2 linked regions of the Homo sapiens genome follow. The protein of the gene in region 2 interacts with the protein of the main gene of each other region in a biochemical or structural test. Each region holds a gene or a part of one and is shown on either strand. Other genes may lie near its edges.

Region 1 (7,287 bases), on a different chromosome or scaffold from region 2:
TATCTATATACTATCCTCCCTGTACCTAAAAGGCATCACAAAGAAAGAACTTGTCTCACTGAATTGCAACATTAAAAAAAAAAAACAAAAAACAAAAAACAACAACAAAAAAAAACACACAGACATTAATGTCCCAAAATGCACTTACTTTGAGACAACCACATCTATGAGCTAAATGAATGCCTTGGCTGGCTTTTTAAAGGGGAATTGCAACTTCCTTGGATCTGCACAGCTTTTCTCATCATTTATTTTGTCAAAGAAATAGATTGAATACTAAGAGGAATCATGTGTTTATTTTGCAAGTAAATAAAAGTCTATATTTGCCTGGCAAAAGCATGTTAAACATAGCTTTTTAACAGATGCTGAAGTTCTCTTGGAATATATTTTATTTTTTCAAAACACAGAAAGCTTAACAGAGCAATTAACATAATTCCTGCAAATAGTCCTATAGATGTTACTGACTATACCTCACTTTCCATTTGTAATTTTATTGGGAGTCAAAGCACTGTTACTCCCATGCTCTTTTCTTCCCCTGGTCAACAAAAGGGCTATGTGCTTAATCTGAAACGTTACAGTAGGAACCACTATATAATAATATTAAAGTAAAGACATAGGTAGATAGATACATAGAAAATAAGCCTTCATATTTTAGTTCATTACTCTCCTCCTTCAGCCCTGTTAAGCTTTCAAGACAGTAAAGTCTGATTATCATGACACTCTTACATCCTTTGTAGCCCTATACAGCTCAACAATAAATAATGGTTTATCTCTGTTCAGTCCTTTTTGTTGCTGTTGTTTTTCTAGGAATTAATCATTTTTTTAAAAAAAGACAACAACCATTTTAAGGGGACAAAATCAGGGCTTCTTTTATAGCAGGTGTGAGAAATCTTAGCTAAAGAGCCGTGAGATCCAAATGGAATTCTTCAAGCAGGCAGAATTTGTAAAACGAAAACCATTTAAGAGCACACATCTTGCCTCTTGATGAAATAAGTTGGTCCTCCCCCACCTTCTCACTCACAAGGCCCCAAAGATGGAGCTAGTTTTCCCTTCCTTCCTCCTGCTTTCACACCCGCCTAACCTCCCAATTAAGCAAGTTTAGCAAACCCAGGGAGCTCAATCCAAGTAACACAGGATTTGAAAGAGGAACCTAAAACCAATCATCCCTCTTCCGGCTTTGTCTTCTTATTTGAAATGAATGAAACATCTAGATTCATTTTCCTTTTTTTTTCTGACTCGCTGCAGGAGTAGCTTTGAGAGAGAAAGAGAAAGCATGTGAGTGTGTGTGTGTGTGTGTGCACGCGCGCGCGCTGGTGGGGGCATGGGAAAGAGAGGTATACTTTCAGAATTCTCTCCTGGTGGCTCCCTCTTTCCCTTGGGAAATCTTCGCACAAGTCTCAGATTGTGCATGTTCAACTGCTCATATCTGGAGATACTCCAGCAATGCCTTTAACCAGATCTGATCAGAAATCTCCACCTACTCAGCTAGAGGCTCCTCCATGATCAGGACGCTTGTACTGTCTTCACCACATCTGTCATTTTTTAAAAAGCTTCTTCCACTACACCTCCCACTGATATCCTTTTTTTCTCTTTTTAGTCTTTACACCTCCAGCAGGACAAAGTTTGTATTGTTATATTCACAACCACTAGTAGCTGACTAGCAGGAGAGAGAGAGAGCGGCTTCAGGAGAGCCAGGTTCGGGGGCTTCAAAAGGATACCTAGCGCAAAGCATGACTTTCCAATGACTGCGTACAACATGCACATTGCTCTCTTCTAAAAATGCTTTGTTAAATTTCATCACCCCTGTTCTCAACTCAACCACTACCACTTTGGAGAGGGAAATACAAATTGCCAGCCCAAGCCATTCATCAAACAGCAACAGAATCCACGGGGTGGTGGGGGGGATAGAGAAGAGGCGGGGGTGATGCAGGGGGTGGATTTAAAGAATCAAGGATGCACACGTACTGTATTTTCAAGAGCATCGCCTGGGCGGATTTGGTTTCTTTGGCCGGCTGTCCAGCTATAAGACCGCCCTCTTCTTCATTAAGGAGGAGCCAAAAAGGATATCTTCACATCTCAGAACACAGACCATTTCCCCCAAGAGCCAGCAAAGCTCCAGAGGCAGAGAATGCAGCTGCAAAGTTCCCTTCCAATCTCTTGGGGAAAGATGCCTGTGTGTGCAGAATCCCCAAAGCACACCACGGCACAGTGCCCAGAGACGTGGACCCCGCAGCCCACTCCCTGCTACCCCCTACATTTCTTCCTCGTCTGTCTCTGCCCCGCCACACCTCCCTCCTCTCCGCAGTCCGTGGTGAATGAGCACCCAACGCCCGCTGGAAAACAGGGGGCTCGGAAATGTGGCCTTGGGGAAAGACCCCAGGGATTACCGGAAGGAGGGATGTCCGCGGAGAAGAGTCCAGTGGGTGGGGACGCCTGGATCCCCAGCAGCTCTGCATTCGGGGTGGACTTAGCTCTTCGCGCCCTGAATCCTCAGAGCCCAGCGCGGTGCAGGGTGCAGCATCTCTCCTTAGCAGCCCTTTCTTCCTCCGGCAGCCTGCACTGGCAGGCAGGCAGGCACCCTCACGCCCAGACGCACCAGCCCGAGCAATTTCACTCTGGGAAGCGCGGACACCCAGAAAAATGTGCAGGCGCGCACACACCACATCACACACACACACACACACACACACACACACACACACACACACACACAAATTTAGAAGCCGCTCGTTTGCCAAAGCAGAGGGAAGTGTAGCCTTATGAGCAGCAAATGGAAAATAGTTCTTGGTCTCTGACTAAATGCCTTCTGCCTGTCCATCATAAGATCCTACCTGGTTTGGGGAGTGTGAATGGATTCTTCCTCCGTTCCTCCACGCTAGTAGAAAATACGGCGCACTCCCTCCTTTTAAACAGCTCCCGATCAGGAAGAGGTCGCTCCCATCTTCTGTGGGAAGCACAAAGCAGGCGGCGGCGGCGGGCTGACTACCGTGCAGCGCCGGCGCGAGCGGGAGCCGCGGCAGCGGGCAGCGGTGCGCGCGGGCGGGAGGCAGGCGCGGAGGCCGGGAGGCTGGGAGGGCCGGGGCCCGGGCGCGCGCGCGCTCCCCCTCCCTCCCGCGCACACTCGCCCGCCCGCCGCCCGCAGCCTCGCACTCGCTCACACGCGCGCTCGGCCCCGCGGCTGCCGGGCGCCCCGGGGCCCCCTGCGCGCCCCTTGGGCTCCCCAGGCGATCGCGTCGGGGCAAAGCCGGCGCGTTTCTGGAGCACCGAGCGGGTGGGGAGCCCTTCCAGCCTCCCAGCCTCTGCCGGCGAGCAGCTTTTTCGATTTCCTGCCGGCTCTCGGCCCCGCAGTGCGTTGTGGCCGCGCGCTAGCGCTGTCTCTCGCACCCAGCCCATCGATGACACGCGCACACAGGCGCTGCAACTTTTCTTTTGAACCCTCTTCTTCTCTTCCGCAGACAGAACCCTGACCCCCAATTCGCCTACCCGTTTCTCACCTCTGACTTTGTTAATCCAACTATCTTTCTTCCCTCACTTCCTGCCCTTCTGCTAAAGGAAGCTTTCTTTTAGCAAAAGGATCTGGGCATATATCAATGATTTTTTTTTTAATCCTCACCCTGTGTTTTTCTACGTATCAGATATGCACAACTATACGTTGGCTACTAGATGCTGACACAAGCAAACAGAGATATTCGGGGGAGGGTGTCCCCCGGCCAAGAACTGGGACAGAGTCTCTGTGTTGGTATTTCCCTCAAAGATGCGTTTCACCTGGGAATAAAGACCCAGAGTCTGTTTCGTGTGAAAGGCGTGCTGGTTTTAAACTACAGTGAGGAGTAAAAGCCGAGCATTAAGGTTGAGTGGGAAAAAACCTAATGCAGCAATCGACGAACCATTCTTTGCCCTTTCCAAGAGAAGCATTATCATTGCCAATAAATCACTTTCCTCATAATTAATAAAGGAACACTGCACCAGGCCTTTCCTCTCTTGACAGCTCATTCATTCTTACAAACCCTTAATGACTTCACGTGGTGAAAGGCTAGACCTACTGTGGAGTTCACTAGCTTCCAAACCTGGCTGCGCATCACACACACCTGGGAATGTAGTCAGATGCTGTAGAATCTGAGGCCGAATCTGATGCAGACTCTCCCGTTGTAGGTCTCAAATGGGGCTCCAAATTAGTATTTTTAAAACACCAGTTGCTATCGGCCACTGGTGTCGTTTGCCAAGGTGTGTGGGGGGGTCAGGAGCAGCTACTTGGGGAAGGTGGGAGAAGGAGGGACCTGCAGAGCACAAGGCAGAAAGTTAGTTTTTTTTCGTGGAGACGTCCCCCCATACTTACAGTGCAACCAGGGCAGTCACCACGACTGATAGATTCTGACTCCAGGAACCTCAGTTTGCCTCCGCAACAAAGAGGGGGCGGAATGGAAGAAATAGCCTCTTCTGCCCCTGTGCCAGTGGCTCTCAACCCTCCTTGCACCTCAGAATCTCCTGGGCCGTTTTTAAAAATCCCAGTGCTTAGGCCACACCCCCAAACTGATTAACTTTGACTCTCTGCAGGTGGGCCCCAGACAGCCTTAATTTGTTTTTAAGATGCCTGGTTGATTCCTATGTGCAATGAAGGTTGAGAACCACTGCTCTAGGCCAATACTCCTCAAACATGAATGTGAGTATGAATCACATGGGGATTGCAGATTCTTTTTCAATAGACCTGGAGCAGGCCTGGGGTAGGCAAGTGTTGAAGTGATGCTGAGGCCGTCTGAATGAGGACCTCACTTTAATTAGTCGGGTCTGTTGCCAGCAGTCTTGGATACTGGCTTTGTAGAGGACACTCTAAGCTGCTTCACGTCTTATAAAATTTGCAGGAATCGTTCTTGCCTAAGAACATTTTTCTTTCCTTGCTATAAGTTAAATTTTCTTGGAAGCTACTTTCCACACCAACTTGGTTAGACTACACTTACTAGTGGATATAAACAGAATGACCTGTGGGGAGAGACAGAAGGTCACTGTCTCTTTTAGAATATGTCCTCTACCAAAAATTACTTAGAGTCCCTGAATTTAAGGCAGTGTGAGTAGCAGATATTTGGCTCACACTCAATGAAAGGGGCTTGGAGAGAAAAGTGGCTGCCTTCTAAATAACACTAAGGAAAGCTTATAACTAAAGACTCCACTCAATAGGAAATAGAACACAGCCAAATGAAGGAACCAAGAGAAAGCTAAATGAAAATGTGAGTGGGCCATATTTCACTGGAATAGATTTTGTGGAAAGAGTGTAGCCTCTTATTGCTATGACGGGCCGCTTAGTGAAAGCTGAGATTTTCTTGAAATTTTAGGCATGTTTGTGACATGGAGTGACAAGAACCCTGTTCTTTAAATGTTTATACTCCAGTGATGCCCAAAGTCTGTCTTAAGACTTTTTTTTTTTTTTTTTTTGCTTTGACCATTGAAACTGAAAGGCTACATCTTGGCCACTTGATTCTTCCTCTTTTCCAATCGAAACTGCTTTTAGACTGATTTGGATTCTTGGGAAAAAAACAATATTAAATGGTCTTCTGTTTATCTAGAACTATTGGAGAGGCAGCCTAGTGCCTAGTGATTTGGCATCCTTTTTGGTTCAGTCAGTTTCTGAGCCCCTAATTTTCTTTGCCTTTCATTTCTCTTTAAAGGCATTTTTATAATGGTTCCAGGGCCCCAAGGCAAATCAAACCTTTTGCTCCCTCCTAAATGTCATACATGAGTGAGTTTTTATTGCGAGAATTATCAAAGGCTGCATCACAGGCACAAGGCTGAGGAAGACTATGGCTCTAAGAAAGGAAAAAGTGAGGCTGCTGCAGTCTGTGGCTTTGGAAAGAAGACATGTTGAATGGAGGAAGGTGGTAATTTACATTCTAATAGCAGTAATGTTTCTTAATTGCAGTCTTCCATATTGATTGCCATTCTTTCCTCTGGACTTGGAATTAAGAGTCACCGGGTCTCCACTGTTATCTAACCAAAGCAATACGACACAACCATTCAGGGGACTCCACAGGGATATCACTAAGATTTGATATATTCGAAAGATGTTCTGATGTTCACAAACTATTTCCTAGGAAACCTTCAGGGGATCTGTTAGCAAACTCATTTTCAGACCAAGTGTAAATATTGTGAATTAGGCCCTACTTTTTATCTAGTCTATAGAAAATTTAGACATGTGATCAGGTTACCAAGATTTTTAAAAATATTTAATACTTTACTAAAGCACTCAATATGTTTTCATCATAGGGAAAACAAGCACAATACTCTGTTTAAATTCCTTTCATTTTTACTTTGAATTACATAAATCAGAGGTACCTCTATTGTCTCTTCCATTGCTTCGGGCTTCTGAAATATGTTAATACAGTCTTAGTCGTCCCTCACCTCATTTCTTACTCTGCCAGCCTTCACTAATCACCTATCTGTTCAGTCACAGGCTCAGTTTCATAGTGATTTCTACATAAGAAAATGTTATTACATAATAGCCCCTAGCCTGGCCAGTGAGTGGAGCTTAGAATTAGCCATTTTTCCATACCTAAGAATCTCAGGTGAACCATTGGGTTCCCAGTTTTGTTCTTTAGGTTTTCTTTGCTGATGAGTAGATCCAGGGTTCTTTGCTTTGGGGATGACTTTGAGAATTCTTTGTTGACTTCTAAGTGCTGTTGTTCCTCTTCCCTGGAGACTTGTTCCTGCAGTTAAACTTTTACTTCTCTGTTTTGTTTTGACCAACTGAACACCACTCTTGTACCTCACCCAGTTGTAAACCCTGCTACTGCACAACAGTCCACAGACTGGGGCAGCCTTCCTGGCAGACTCACAGTCACAACTCTCCTCCTCTCTGCATTACCGTGGGGTCAACCACTTCCTCTGAGTCGCCAATGAATTTGTCACAGTCTTTGGACATCAGGGACCTGCAATTCTACATTTGAGCAACTGATATTAAAGAATTGGGTTTGGGCTGGGCGCGGTGGCTCACGCCTGTAATCCCAGCACTTTGGGAGGTTGAGGCGGGTGGATCACGAGGTCAGGAGATCGAGACCATCCTGGCTAACATGGTGAAATCCCGTCTCTACTAAAAATACAAAAAATTAGCCGGGCGTGGTGGCGGGCACCTGTAGTCCCAGCTACTTGGGAGGCTGAGGCAGGAGAATGGCGTGAACCCAGGAGGCGGAGCTTGCAGTGAGCAGAGATCACACCACTGCACTCCAGCCTGGGTGGACAGAGCGAGACTCCGTCTCAAAAAAAAAAAAAAAAAAAAAAAAGAATTGGGTTTGTACAAAATTC
Region 2 (7,090 bases):
TGATTTTTCTATCTGTGGGGCTGTTGGAACCCACGGCCACCGCCTCCACTAGGCTGGGAGCTCGGCCAGGAAGGGCGGGAGGTTTTTTCCTCGCTTGGTCCCAGGGCCAGGCTTGGGCCATGGCACATAGTAGGTGCTTAATACATAGTCGCTGACGGGGATCGGGCTGCGGGTCAGGGGTACTCCCCGCCTCACCCGCGGCGCCCTCCAGAGCAGGAGCGGGCGAAGGAGGGCGGGGAGGGGCGTCTTACCTCTGCTGCTGGTTGAACTTGCACCGGCATCTTCTGCCTGTGGGCGTGGAGAGGTAGGAGAAGCTGAGGCTCCCTCCCGGCGGGCGCCAAGCGGCGCTGTAGCTCCAGCTCGCCCTCGCGAGGGGCGGGGCTTGGGGGACGGGGCGGGGCTAGAGGCGAGACCGGGGGCCGGGGAACCAAGGCAGGGTAGGCGGGGCAAGGCCTGGGAGGGGTTGGGGCGGGGCGGGGCCAGGGAGGGGCGGGACCAGGGAGAAGCGGGGCCAGGGAGAGGGGGGCTAGGGAGAGGCGGGGCCAGGGAGAGGCGGGGCCAGAGAGAGGTGGGGCCAGGGAGAGGCGGGGTAGAGGGCGGGAGCTAGGGGCACTCACTCAGCACGATGAGGATGCCCAGGATGAAGAGGATCCCGGCGATGACGAGGCCTCCGATCTGCAGGGACTGGTAGTCTGTGAGCAGCAGAGCAGGGAAGGTGAGGGCAGGGAAGACAGGAGGGAGAATAGGAGAGGGGTAAATTGGGAAGGAGGGAACAGGGAGAAAGGACCAGCAGGCAGAAGGGGGGAAGTAAGATAATTAAGGGGGAGCAGATATGGGAGGAGGAAAGTGGGGTACCAGGGAGAGGAAAGGGGTGTATAGGAAAGGGAGGGAGGGGACAGGGAGGAGGAGGACAGGGGGGAGAGAAGACGGGAAGAAGCAGAGGATGGGCCACGAGATGCTGAGACAGACGCAGGCAAGAGAAAGAGAACCAGAGAGGTATCACATAGACAGTGACACAGATAGACACAGACAGGAAAAGATGCAGACAGGTGGAATCAGAGAGGAAGGACAAAATAGAGGGAAGGAGAATGACAGAGATATCAATACTGGGACTCTGGGGGAGGGCGAGGGGGAATCAAAGGACCAGCAAAGCCAGGCTCTCCCCCAGGACTCAAAATTAGACCCCCCGCTCACCGTAAGTGAACGGGTCGTGTTCCTTTGGACTTTCTGGAAAGAGAGAGAAATCAGGGGTTGAATGCTTCCTGGGGTCCTGGCAGGGAGGGGCATGAGGAGACCACTGGAGGCTCTGCCTTGCTGGGCTTAGAGTCTGAGGGTGTCTGGGCAGGCTGCCCACACTCTCTGGGTCCCAGCTGCCCCCTCTGCACTGTCCCAGATGGGGCAGGTGGCACCTAACTGCCCCAGCTCCCTGACTCACGGCAGGCTGTCTGTGACCCAGTTATCCCATCGGGGATTCAGCCCCATCCCACCCCATCTTTGCCTGATCTGGGGCTTCCTCTCCCCTCCCCCAAATACCAGCCTGTGACTGGACCCCACGTGGAGACCCCCAAACTTCTTGGTACCCCAGCCGACTTAGTCTAGGTTGGGGTCTCCAACTTGGTTCTTCGGTCCCCACCGCCACCCCTGGGGCTGAGGTGGGTAGCGGGCAGCCTCCCCTGCACTCACCTGCCTTGGCCATGGTGAGGAGACCCACACAGAAAACCAAGATGTGGCCAAGAGACGCCATTGTCCTGGGGGGGACACCACGGATTAGGCAGTGTGTGCCCTTGCTCTCCCACATAGGGCTTGAACCCAAGGGATTAAGTCAGAGACAGTCTGGGGACTGAATCACAGAAGTGTTTGTCCTCTATCTTGGTGGCTCCAAGCTAGAGAAACGGGTATCCCCAGCTTCGTGGGGACACAGTGTCACCAAAACAACCTCCACGATGGGATCACACAACAACACAACGTAGCAGGGACGGGGGTGAGACACACAGTCCCCGGGGGGCCTCCCTTGGGCCTCCACCTCCCGCAGCAGGCCCCCGATTCCCAGACCTACCCTGGCAGGGCAGAGGAGGCGCTGCCTCACACAAACACAGAGCAGGAGACAGCAGGGCACGCCCAAGTCCCACCTGCCTACATGCCCGGCCTCACTGTGCCCCGCGAAATCCCAGCTCCCTGCCCTCTCCGCCCGCCCGCTCGCGGCCTGACCCCGGGTATAAATATCTCCCACTTCACCCTGGAGGAATTCTGCTCGCTCAGGCCACCATGGCAACAGCCTGCCTTCCCCCACTCAGGGGGTCACGCACAGCCCTGCCGGGGTGAGGCCCAGCTGCCACATCGCCACAGGCTGCCCCTGTGGGAAAGGTCACCCCGTCTCCTCCCTGGGCAGCAACGAGAAAAGGAAAAGACAGCCCCTCTGCCCGCCTCTGGGTGACATCTTTCACAATCGGATGTCAGGCAAGTGACATGAGGCCCAGCCCAGTGGGCCTTAGAGATAGAAAACACATGCTGGGGCAGGGATACACACACACACACACACACACACACACACACACACACACAGTGGGGCCGGAATGGACATGAACAACAACCTCTCCCCAAACTGCTGGTTGGAGCAGGACGTGGGGTGTAAACACCGTCAGGCATCCAATACTCCTCCTCTGGGCCTCCGGTGCCCCCACGCAGTGACGCAACCAGCCCTACACACGTGTGTGTCCCAACTCCACACCCTGCCAGGGTGCACACGCACCAGCAGGGCAGGGAGGAGTCACCCACATCCCACCCTGCAGAACCCACTGCCTCAACCACACTCCCTCCCTCTTGGGTTGGCCTGCCTGGGAAGCCTCGGGCTGGCCACTCCTGCTCCCAAAATAGGCGGCCCAGCCAGACCAGGGGTGAGGCCTGGAGGGAAGGAGTGGGGGACGCTCACCCCAATCGGGCTGTCCCCTGCTGAAAGAAGGCCCCCAAACGTCCTGCTGTGCCCCGGGGGCTGAGCACTTTGGACCCCCTGGCCCAGAGCTGGACGCGCCGCCCCCAGCAGCCTCCCCTCCCAGCCCCACCCCACCCATGCCCTCCCCAACCAGCAGCTGAAACTGGAGCTGGGGCTGGAGGGGGGCCAGGGGGCGGCCCCCAGCCCAGACTGCCCTGGCCCGCTTGGTTAACTCTCTCAGTTCAGAGAGAGCAGCAGCAGGCAGCCAGCAGGCAGGCTGGAGAGGCTAGGAGGATTGTGGAGGACAGGGTTGTGAACACACACACACACAAACACACACGCCTCCAAGAGCTTTTGGGCTGAGGCGGCTGCCCCCTGGGAACTGGGTCCAGCCAGGGCCGAAGGTCACCCAGCCTGACTGCCCAGGAGCCCACTGACCCCCGATCCCAGTGCTCCGTGAGGTCCTTAACAGGGCTGTTTTAGAGGACGGGAGGGAGGTGTGTGTGTGTGTGTGTGTGTGCGCGCGCATGTGCGCTATCTGCTGTGGTGAGATCCCCAGAAATGCACCACACACACACACCCACACACAATCCCAAAGACCCAGATATACAGGTACAAAACCAGACAAAACCATGTATGTATGTACATCCATAGAAGCAGACACACACAGAATGACACACTGATAGAGAAACCCAAAGACCCGGACACACAGCCAACACCTTTTATGCCAGTCACAAAATACCAGAACAAGCACATTTATGTCTACACAGACCCACGCACGCTCATGTAGATGGATGGCCACACAGAGATACAGTCAAAGACATAGCCACATCACCATCTACACTCACAAACTGGCCACAAAAATGCATGTTTATGTGAAGACCCACCCACAAATGGCCATACAGAAACACACAAGTATGTGCACACCGCACATAAATGCATTCTAAGATGCATGGCCAAACATGGCCAGGTACGGTGGCTCACACCTGTACTCCCAGCACTTTGGGAGGCCAAGGCGGGAGGATCACTTGAGGCCAGGAGTTCAACACCAGCCTGGCCAACCCGACGAGAGCTCGTCTCTACTAAAAAAATATACAAAAATTAGCTGGGTGTGGTGGCGTGCGCCTGTAATCACGGCTACTCCGGAGGCTGAGGCAGGAGAGTCACTTGAGCCCGGGAGGCAGAGCTTGCAGTGAGCTGAGATCATGCCACTGCACTCTAGCCTGGGCAACAGAGCGAGACTCTGTCTCAAAAACAAAAACAAAACAAAAAAACCCCAAAGGTACAGACATGCAGCCAGCACTCCTACATGGTCCCAAAGATAGGAAGGCCAACAAGCTTGTGTACACACAGACAGATTTCCATGGGCACAGATACACAAGCAGAAACACCATCAAGGACAACCCGCCGCTCTCACACATACCCACAAAAGCAGAAACACACACACTGGTTCACACCCTATGCTTGAGCAAACAGGCACATGGTTGGCCACGGTGACAGATGCGCAGGCTGACACACTTGCATGTTCACACATTCCAAAACCACAGATATGTATTTAACCCCACACTTTCCTTCCCCTGAGCTCTTGTCGGGGACAACACACCTGGCGTCCCCATGGGCAGGCCAGGTTTACAGGTCCTGGTGACAGGGAAACCTGGAATGGCCCAGGCACTGCACTCCTGGTTGTGTGAACTTGAGCAGCTCTGTGCCTCATTTTCACATGCTCCAAAATGGAAAAATCACTAAGATCACGTGTATAATCCTGGACAGGGCTCAGAGGTCTCTGAACTTGACATTGTCTTATGATTAACTTCATTTTTTGTTTGTTTGTTTGAGACCGGGTCTTGCTCTGTCACCCAGGCTGAAGTGCAATGGCACAATCATAGCTCACTGTAGCCTCAACCTCATGGGCTCAAGTGATTCTCCCACCTCAGCTTCCTGAGTAGCTGGGACTATGGGCGTGCGACACCATGCCTGGCTAATTTTTTAATTTTTTGTACAGTCGGGGTTTCTCTATGTTGCCCAGGCTTGTCTTGAACTCCTGGCCCCAAGCGATCCTCCCACTTCAGCCTGCCAAAATGTGGGATTACAGAAATGAGCCACCGTGCCTGGCCTATTATTATTGTCCTTGTCATCCTCCTCCTTGTGAACTGGACTGCTGGGCTGGGCACCCTATGAGAGTGGGTTCAGATCCCTCTGTGCCCCTGGCACTCAGCTCTCCAACTTCACTTTCAGGGACCCTGTTTATCATACCCAATAGTCAGTGAAGGAAACTGAGAGCTGACGGGCATGGCTCAAACCACAAGCTGCTGGGGTCTGCTCCTCTAGGAGCTGGATCCGGAGCCCACCCCCAAGCTTGCCGACCACTGTGGGATGCCCACCTTGTGCTGAACCCCAAAAGGATGAGTTGCCTCCATCACCTGAGTCCTCTCCACAACTGGGAAGCGGGTGCCACGATTGTCCCCGTTTGACAGATGGGAAAACTGAGGCCACACAGGACTGGGCCTGGAACCCAGATCTGCATGACCTCCAAGCTGTTAAGCCCCCTTATCCTCCAACGAGGCTTCTGGGCGTGGGCGTCAGTGTCAAGAGAGGCTGCATGCATTCCTCAATCACAGGATGAGTCTCGTCCCCAGGCGATGAGGTGGTACAGCCTAGGGGTTAGGTTTAGAGCTGACTAGAGCCAGGAAACTAATCACATAACTTCCCTGTGCCTCAGTTTCCCCATCTGTAAAGCAGGGATAGCAGTACTGCCCATCTCACAGGGTGGCTGTGAAGGCTGAGTGAGTATAAACATTACTACTATTTCATCTTAGCTAACAAGTGTCATTTACTTATGTTTCTTATTTAGTGGACAGAATCTATCCAAATGACTAAAATTTAGTCCAGATTAAAACAACCAATTATCCATCTATCCATGAACTCTGATCTCCAAAGAAAGAATGCAAAATAACCTGGAGCCGGATGCCTGGGTTTGAATCCCGGCTGTGCCCTCAGCTGGGTAACCTAGAGTTCAGGTTCCCTGACCTCTGTCTCCACTTCCTCCAGCTGTAAAGTGGTGATGATGACAGCACTAACTTCAGAGGGCTTTGGCAAGATCAGAATGAGTTAATAGATGAGCTTTTAGGACAAGGCCAGGCTCAGAGTAGACGCTGAAGAAGGGGTGGCATCATCATCATCATCTTCACCATCATCATCATCTTCATCATCATCATGTCCTCGGGTTGGTGCTGTCCCCCAGTGGGTGTTGGCCACTAGAGGGTTAATTTCAGGGTAGGGGAGGGAGGCTAAGGGCTTGGGGCCGGGCAGAGGTCCTGCCGAGTATGACCACCAGAGGGAGCAGCTGGACGTGATCTGGCCCCACTGACAGCGCCCAACACACCCTCCTGTAGCCAGGGGAGGGGGCTGGCAGAGAGTGGCCAGGACGGGATGTCCCCAGCCCCCCCAGGGCCTCTCCTCCCACCCTGCTCCAGAATGCAGAGCCATCTGGTCCCCACCCTGGTGACATCGTCCTCCTGCTCCCCCAATAGGGTTGAGTGGGGAATCTGGGGAGGGGGCTGGCGGGAGTGGTGGGGCGGCTCCAGCCCTTGGTGGCCCCTCCCCCTCCTGTGGGGCTGTCCAGTCCCTTCCCCCAAGGCCGACCTTCTCATGGCCTCTGACCCCCTCCTCCTTCCCATCCTACTCTGCCGGGTGTGCCGGGTGTCCAGCGAACCCCTTTCCCAAACCTTCGGGGAGAAGGGAGGTGGGAGGAGGCAAAGAAACTACAGGCAGGGAGCTGGAAGGGGGGGTGGGGGGGGCAGGAGACAAGAAATCAAGACACCAGGCAGCAGGACACACACACACTCACATACACTCACACACATAGAGACCAACAGATAGACAGCTACCTAAAGCCTGAAAGACTGACAGCAACACAGAAAAAAAGAAACAGGCAGAAAGAGAGACAAAGACAGAAATAGAAACAGACTAACACACAGAGTCAAAAATACAGAGACAGAAAGACAGGGAGAAAGAGAAACAGAAAATTAGACACCAAAGACATACGAACAGGGAGGAAGGCCGACTGAAAGAAAGACGGAGAAGAGGAGAGAGAAGCCAGGGCCGAGCGTGCCAGCAGGCGGATGGAGGGCGGCCTGGTGGAGGAGGAGACGTAGTGGCCTG

Evidence for each region.
Region 1: the proteins of FXYD1 (region 2) and SLC8A1 form a complex in vitro, tested with the Homo sapiens proteins (one study listed by BioGRID).

Annotation. Positions count from the first base shown.
Region 1 is NC_000002.12:40,449,076-40,456,362, forward strand, and holds the start of SLC8A1 (sodium/calcium exchanger 1 isoform A precursor), read right to left. Parts: upstream 3,016-7,287; 5' UTR 2,829-3,015; intron 2,610-2,828; exon of another isoform or gene 2,385-2,609; intron 1-2,384. UniProt on the Homo sapiens protein: Mediates the exchange of one Ca(2+) ion against three to four Na(+) ions across the cell membrane, and thereby contributes to the regulation of cytoplasmic Ca(2+) levels and Ca(2+)-dependent cellular processes.
Region 2 is NC_000019.10:35,134,734-35,141,823, reverse strand, and holds the start of FXYD1 (phospholemman precursor), read right to left. Parts: upstream 3,001-7,090; 5' UTR 2,930-3,000; intron 2,690-2,929; exon of another isoform or gene 2,592-2,689; intron 2,403-2,591; exon of another isoform or gene 2,236-2,402; intron 2,191-2,235; exon of another isoform or gene 2,057-2,190; intron 1,906-2,056; exon of another isoform or gene 1,799-1,905; coding exon of another isoform or gene 1,745-1,798; coding exon 1,684-1,744; intron 1,228-1,683; coding exon 1,195-1,227; intron 693-1,194; coding exon 618-692; intron 289-617; coding exon 252-288; intron 1-251. UniProt on the Homo sapiens protein: Associates with and regulates the activity of the sodium/potassium-transporting ATPase (NKA) which transports Na(+) out of the cell and K(+) into the cell. Inhibits NKA activity in its unphosphorylated state and stimulates activity when phosphorylated.